Linked DNA regions of Homo sapiens. The protein of the gene in region 1 purifies or fractionates together with the protein of each later gene. This does not show direct contact. Each region holds a gene or a part of one and is shown on either strand. Other genes may lie near its edges. The genes, in order: OR4D6 and LRRC8E.

Region 1 (3,000 bases):
CTTCTAAAGTAAGAAACATTAGACTAATTTATCTCTGAAGTCCTGTGACGCTCTAATGATCAGTTTTTCTGTGATACTAAAACATGCCCTGAACAATGACTGTGGCTCTATACAAAGAGCCCTGTGTGTCAATAGCAAGGTCCAGGCTTCCCAGAGTGCCAAAGAGGAGTACTTATGAGGGCCTGACCCTTCTCTTTTTATAAGGGATGAGATAAGGATTAGGTAGTCAAACTACTTAATAAACTGTTTAAGCCTTATATACACACTAGAATTCCGGTAAGCCAAAGTAAGCCCCAGACTCTCTGATTTCTCAGAGTTGTACAGTGGAAAAACCTCTGGAGACTGTTATGTTAAAGAAAAATTATTCACCAGACAATTATTAAAGACAGGAAGATAGATTTCATTTAAAACTCTTGCAATAGAAGAAAAAGATTGAGCTCAACTCGAAATATAGTGAAAACAAGTGAAGATTTATAAGCAATGAGCAGAGTGAGGGAGGTCAGTGGATTGAAAATTACTAAGAAGTGATATCAAAGGTAGGGTGGTTCTTGCTAAACTGGCATAAAAGAATTCTTGCTAAAGACTGGCCAAGGACTTAGATATTGAGGGTGAGGGATGAGGTTAAAAATAATAAATATATAAAAGGGTAAGGGGTGAGGAATTTGATTAGATTTCAAGGGTGTGGAATTCTCATTAAACTGACTTGGCAAGATTCCTGTTAAAATTGGGCTCAGCAAAGACAGACACAGAAGGTCAAGGTTGAGTCATAGTCAAGAAAAGGGCTCAGAGGAGCCTAACCAACATTTGGTCAAGGAGGGAATCTTTCTCAAGTCAGGAGATTGATTTGTATTTGAATCCTCAATTTACAATTCACTAATTTTGCGACTATGCAGATGTAAGTCATTAACTGCTGTAAAGCTTCAGTTTCCCCGTATATAAAATGGAGATAACCATACTAAAGACTCTTCAGAAACTTCATGAGAATTGAAATCAGTATGAGCTATTGCAGGTGAAAGCCCTTGGTAAAGCATAGGCAAATGGCCATAGTCCATCCATCTCTCTCTGGTCAGAGTGAGGATACAGACATGTGATGGTTTTTTCCTGTTAACCCAAGGTATTTACAATAAGAAAGAAGAACCATATGAAAGAAGAATTTCCAGACCACAAAGAGAAGACTGGCCCAGTTTTTCTGTGTAGTCATGATGACCTGGATGCTTGAGAGCAGTATGTGATCAATGATTTTGCCACCTCATGTCACCATAATCCAAGTTCTAACATATCTTCATCAAAGGTAGGACCTGGAAGAGAGTCATCCCCATCATGGACCAGATCAACCACACTAATGTGAAGGAGTTTTTCTTCCTGGAACTTACACGTTCCCGAGAGCTGGAGTTTTTCTTGTTTGTGGTCTTCTTTGCTGTGTATGTAGCAACAGTCCTGGGAAATGCACTCATTGTGGTCACTATTACCTGTGAGTCCCGCCTACACACTCCTATGTACTTTCTCCTGCGGAACAAATCAGTCCTGGACATCGTTTTTTCATCTATCACCGTCCCCAAGTTCCTGGTGGATCTTTTATCAGACAGGAAAACCATCTCCTACAATGACTGCATGGCACAGATCTTTTTCTTCCACTTTGCTGGTGGGGCAGATATTTTTTTCCTCTCTGTGATGGCCTATGACAGATACCTTGCAATCGCCAAGCCCCTGCACTATGTGACCATGATGAGGAAAGAGGTGTGGGTGGCCTTGGTGGTGGCTTCTTGGGTGAGTGGTGGTTTGCATTCAATCATCCAGGTAATTCTGATGCTTCCATTCCCCTTCTGTGGCCCCAACACACTGGATGCCTTCTACTGTTATGTGCTCCAGGTGGTAAAACTGGCCTGCACTGACACCTTTGCTTTGGAGCTTTTCATGATCTCTAACAACGGACTGGTGACCCTGCTCTGGTTCCTCCTGCTCCTGGGCTCCTACACTGTCATTCTGGTGATGCTGAGATCCCACTCTGGGGAGGGGCGGAACAAGGCCCTCTCCACGTGCACGTCCCACATGCTGGTGGTGACTCTTCACTTCGTGCCTTGTGTTTACATCTACTGCCGGCCCTTCATGACGCTGCCCATGGACACAACCATATCCATTAATAACACGGTCATTACCCCCATGCTGAACCCCATCATCTATTCCCTGAGAAATCAAGAGATGAAGTCAGCCATGCAGAGGCTGCAGAGGAGACTTGGGCCTTCCGAGAGCAGAAAATGGGGGTGAGCAGTCAGATGGAGAGTGGAAGTCTGTCTGACTTAGTTTTCTCAAAATGCTAGCCTAAGAGTAACAGGTCGCTAGCTCTTCTTCCACTACTTCATTGTATATCTTCATAGCCGCTCGATTCTATTAGCGGGAGTATACAAACAAAAAGAAGAAATGAGATTAAACAATGTGAGCTATCGAGCTTGTGGACTCAGGAGAAGAAGAGGGTATAAGGTTGAAATCAATACCCTAAATGCTTTTTGGTGTTACCTGTGACTCATACCAACACTTATCTCACTTTTAGCACCAGTAATATGGAAATATCATTACTTGCTCACAAGTTTGTCAAAAGAATGAAATGTGATCAATGCTGTGAGGATGATAGTTGTGAAGGTTAGTACTGCTCCTGGCATTAATCAGGTATTCAATCAACATTCCCTATTACCTACCCCTCTCTTCCTAAATGTGCATATACACAGAATATAGACACATTTATTTCATATATGCTTTCTCTGGTGACTCTGCTATATCCAGTCAATTATTGAAATCACTTGATTTTATTTTATTTTATTTTATTTTATTTTATTTTATTTTTTTGGGACGGAGTCTTGCTCTGTTGCCCAGGCTGGAGTGCAGTGGCGCGATCTTGGCTCACTGCAAACTCCACCTCCTGGGTTCACGCCATTCTCCTGCCTCAGCCTCCTGAGTAGCTGGGACTACAGGCGCCCGCCATGACGCCCGGCTAATTTTTTGTAT
Region 2 (3,821 bases), on another chromosome or scaffold:
GCCAAGCTGAAGGCTAGTCAGCCCTGGGGGTAGGAGGTGACCAGGACACCTGAGTTTCTAAAGGGGCTACAGCCCAGAATCACAGGCAGAAACCAGAGACCTGGGCTCTGAGAGGGGGCAATGGGGTGTCCGGATGTCCGAGGAGGAAGGAGGATTTGCAAATGGAAAGTTGTCAGGTGACATCTGCGACCAGGCTAGGGCTGTGCTGTCAGGCTCCTGGCCGGCCCACTCTGTCTGTTCCCAGGGTCTCCTTTTAGACCAAGCTATCACTATTACAGATACAGACAGGCCAGCCACAAATCACACTGGGGCGTGGGGCATGAGCTGAGATGTCACTCTCCCAGGCAGGTACCTACTTCCCCAGAGGCTGGAGGTGGAACAAGGAAGGTGGGGAACCTTAGACCAGCCCACTTCTGCCAACATCCAAGTTCCCCCACTCCTGGGAGCCTCCTGTCCTTGTCCAGATAGATAATCTGTAACTGGGGCTGGGCGCGGTGGCTCATGCCTGTAATCCCAGCACTATGGGAAGCTGAGGCAGGTGGATCACTTGAGGTTAGGAGTTCGAGACCAGTGAGGCCAACATGGTGAAACCCAGAGTCTACTAAAAATACACAAAAAATTAACCAGGTGTGGTGACACACACCTGTAATCCTAGCTACTCTGGAGGCTGAGGTGGGAGGGTCTTGATCCGGGGAGGCAGAGGTGGCAGTGAAGTGAGACCGTGCCACTGCACTCCAGCCTGGGTGACAGAGTGAGACTCCATCTCAAACAAACAAAACAAAAGACAAAGATAATCTGTAACGGGACAGGAGTTGGGCCAAGAAGGAGGGCATCTGCCCATCAGGGAGTTATCTCTGGCTCCCCATCCATCTCCCCAGGAAGAATCTAGGGAAACCCTGGTCCCCTGACCCACGACTCAGCCAATGGTTCTGACATGTCTGAGCCTCCCTTTTCAGTTTGTGTCCCCCCCATATTTTGGGGTGACTCCTGGGTTAAAACAAGGTAGGATACAGGCTCCACCCACCAAGCTAAAGGCCAAGCAGTCCCGAAAGACCACATCCTTTTACCCCCTCAGAGGCCCCCACTTCAGTCTGGGGAATCAGATAGGCAGGCAAGGGTGTGGGTACAGCCTGCCCACACGGGGACTCACCATGCAAGTGTAAAATGTCATAGGTTGGGCCAGGCGCAGTGGCTCACGTCTGTAATCCCAGCACTTTGGGAGGCCAAGGCAGGCGGATCACAAGGTCAGGAGTTCGAAACCAGCCTGGCCAGCATGGTGAAACCCCGTCTCTTCTAAAAATACAAAAATTAGCCGGGCATGGTGGCATGAACCTGTAGTCCCAGCTAGGCAGGAGAATCGCTTGAACCCGGGAAGCGGAGGTTGTGGTGAGCTGAGATCGTGCCACTGCAATCTAGCCTGGGAGACGGAGCGAGACTCTGTCTCGGGAAAAAAAAAAAAAAAAGTCATGGGTTCCCTGACTCAGGCAGTGACTCACCCAGACCCAGATCCATGCAAGGGGGTGCCCAGAGCACAGGGTCCTTCGCACCATGGCCTGGCCCTCATGCTCATTCACACTCCCTGCCCTAAGCAAAAAGCCAAGTATACTTTGGGAGGCCGAGGTGGGCAGATCACTTGAGGTTAGGAGTTCGAGACCAGCCTGGCCAACATGGTGAAACTCCGTCTCTATTAAAAATACAAAAATTAGCCAGGTGCGGTGGCTCACGCCTGTAATCCCAGCACTTTGGGAGGCCGAGGCAGGCAAATCACAAGGTCAGGAGTTAGGGACCAGCCTGGCCAACGTGATGAAACCCCGTCTCTACTAAAAATACAAAAAATTAGCTGGGCGTGGTGGCAGGTGCCTGTAATCCCAGCTACTAGGGAGGCTGAGGCAGGAGGATCGCTTGAACCTGGGAGGCAGAGGTTGCAGTGAGCTGAGATTGCGCCACTGCACTCTAGCCCAGACAATAGTGCAAGACTCTGTCTCAAAACTAAAACAAAATAAAAATAAAAATACAAAACAGCCAGTCATGGTGGAGGGTGCCTGTAGTCCCGGTTACTCGGGAGGCTGAGGCACGAAAACCCCTTGAACCCGGGAGGCGGAGGTTGCAGTCAGCCAAGATTGCACTACTGCATTCCAGCCTGGGCGACAGAGCAAGACCCTGTCTCTAAAAAAGAGAAGAGAAGAGAAAAGAAACCCGACTACAAATATCCCAGTCTGCCTGGGTCACCAGTATGTAATCTGGTAGAAACATACCAGGATAGCTCAACTGTCCCCAGGGGAAGAATATGTACATTGCACCCACCAAAATGGACGCTTGGGGTCATTTTGGGTCATGCATATTTGTGCACGAGGGTATAAAGTCCAAGTACACACACTGAGCTTCGGAGGGACCCAGCACCAGGGACCCTCACGTCCTGTTTTGGTTCCGGCCATCCATTGAGTCCTCCAAGGATCCTGCAGGGACACTGCTCAGTTGCTTTACCTAAGAATGCTGACCCCAGGCTGGGTGCAGTGGCTCAGGCCTGTAATTCCAGCACTTTGGGAGGCTGAGGCAGGAGGATTGCTTGAGCCCAGGAGTTTGAGCAGCCAGGACAACATAGTCAGACCCCATTTCTACAAAAAAATCTAAAAATTTGGGCCGGGTGCGGTGGCTCACGCCTGTAATCCCAGCACTTTGGGAGGCCGAGGTGGGTGGATCACGAGGTCAGGAGATTGAGACCATCCTGGCTAATGCGGCGAAACCCCGTCTCTACTAAAAATACAAAAAATTAGCCGGGCATAGTGGCAGACGCCTGTAGTCCCAGCTACTTGGGAGGCTGAGGCAGGAGAATGGCGTGAACCTGGGAGGCAGAGCCTGCAGTGAGCCAAGATTGCACAACTGTACTCCAGCCTGGGCGACAGAGCGAGACTCCGTCTCAAAAAAAAAAAAAAAATCTAAAATCTTGCCAGGTGTGGTGGTGCATGCCTGTAGTCCCAGCTACTTGGAAGACTGAGGTGGGAGGATTGCTTGAACCCAGGAGTTAGAGGCTGCAGTGAGCCATGAACCAGCCTGGGCAAGACCCTATCTCAAACACAGCAAGCAAAACACTACTGACTGGGGCCGGGCGCGGTGGCTCTCGCCTGTAATCCCAGCACTTTGGGAGGCCAAGGTAGGCGGATAATTTGAGGTCAGGAGTTCCAGACCAGCCTGGCCAACATGGTGAAACCTCGTCTCTACTAAAAATACAAAAACAATTAGCCAGGCATGGTGGTGGATGCCTGTAATCCCAGCTACTCAGGAGAGTGAGGCAGGAGAATTGCTTAAACTCGGGAGACAGAAGCTGCAGTGAGCCAAGATCTCGCCACTGCACTCCAGCCTGGGCGACAGAGCGAGACTCCGTCTCAAAAAAACAAAACAAAACAAAAACTCCTGACTCTGGAGGCTGCAGAAGAAATCACACAACACACACACACACACACAAACACACACACACACACACACACCCGAGCAGGGACCAACTTCCTGTCCTTGCCACCCTGGTGTAAGCTCCACCAATAGCCATCCCAGGTGCACAATCGCAGACAAGAAGGCAGCAACACTCAGGGGACCGGGGGGCAGCCACAGGGGCTATCATTATCTGTCTCCATGACTCAAACTTGATCCTCACAAACCTGCCATTAAATTTCCACAGACATAAAATAGGCCCCCACTTTGTCTGAGCAGGGCTGGTGGGAAGGTCCAGGAACAGGGGCTCGAAGAATTGGGGCAGAGCCAGGGAAAATAAAACGATGGGACGTATACGCTCAGCTTTCTCCACCAGACACTGAATGCCTCATTTT

The links.
Region 2: the proteins of OR4D6 (region 1) and LRRC8E purify together in Homo sapiens (affinity purification with mass spectrometry; one large-scale study listed by BioGRID and IntAct). This does not show direct contact.

The regions. Positions count from the first base shown.
Region 1 is NC_000011.10:59,455,641-59,458,640, forward strand, and holds OR4D6 (olfactory receptor 4D6), read left to right. Parts: upstream 1-1,320; coding exon 1,321-2,265; downstream 2,266-3,000. UniProt on the Homo sapiens protein: Odorant receptor.
Region 2 is NC_000019.10:7,891,189-7,895,009, reverse strand, and holds part of LRRC8E (volume-regulated anion channel subunit LRRC8E), read right to left. Parts: intron 1,438-3,821; exon of another isoform or gene 1,151-1,437; intron 491-1,150; exon of another isoform or gene 1-490. UniProt on the Homo sapiens protein: Non-essential component of the volume-regulated anion channel (VRAC, also named VSOAC channel), an anion channel required to maintain a constant cell volume in response to extracellular or intracellular osmotic changes.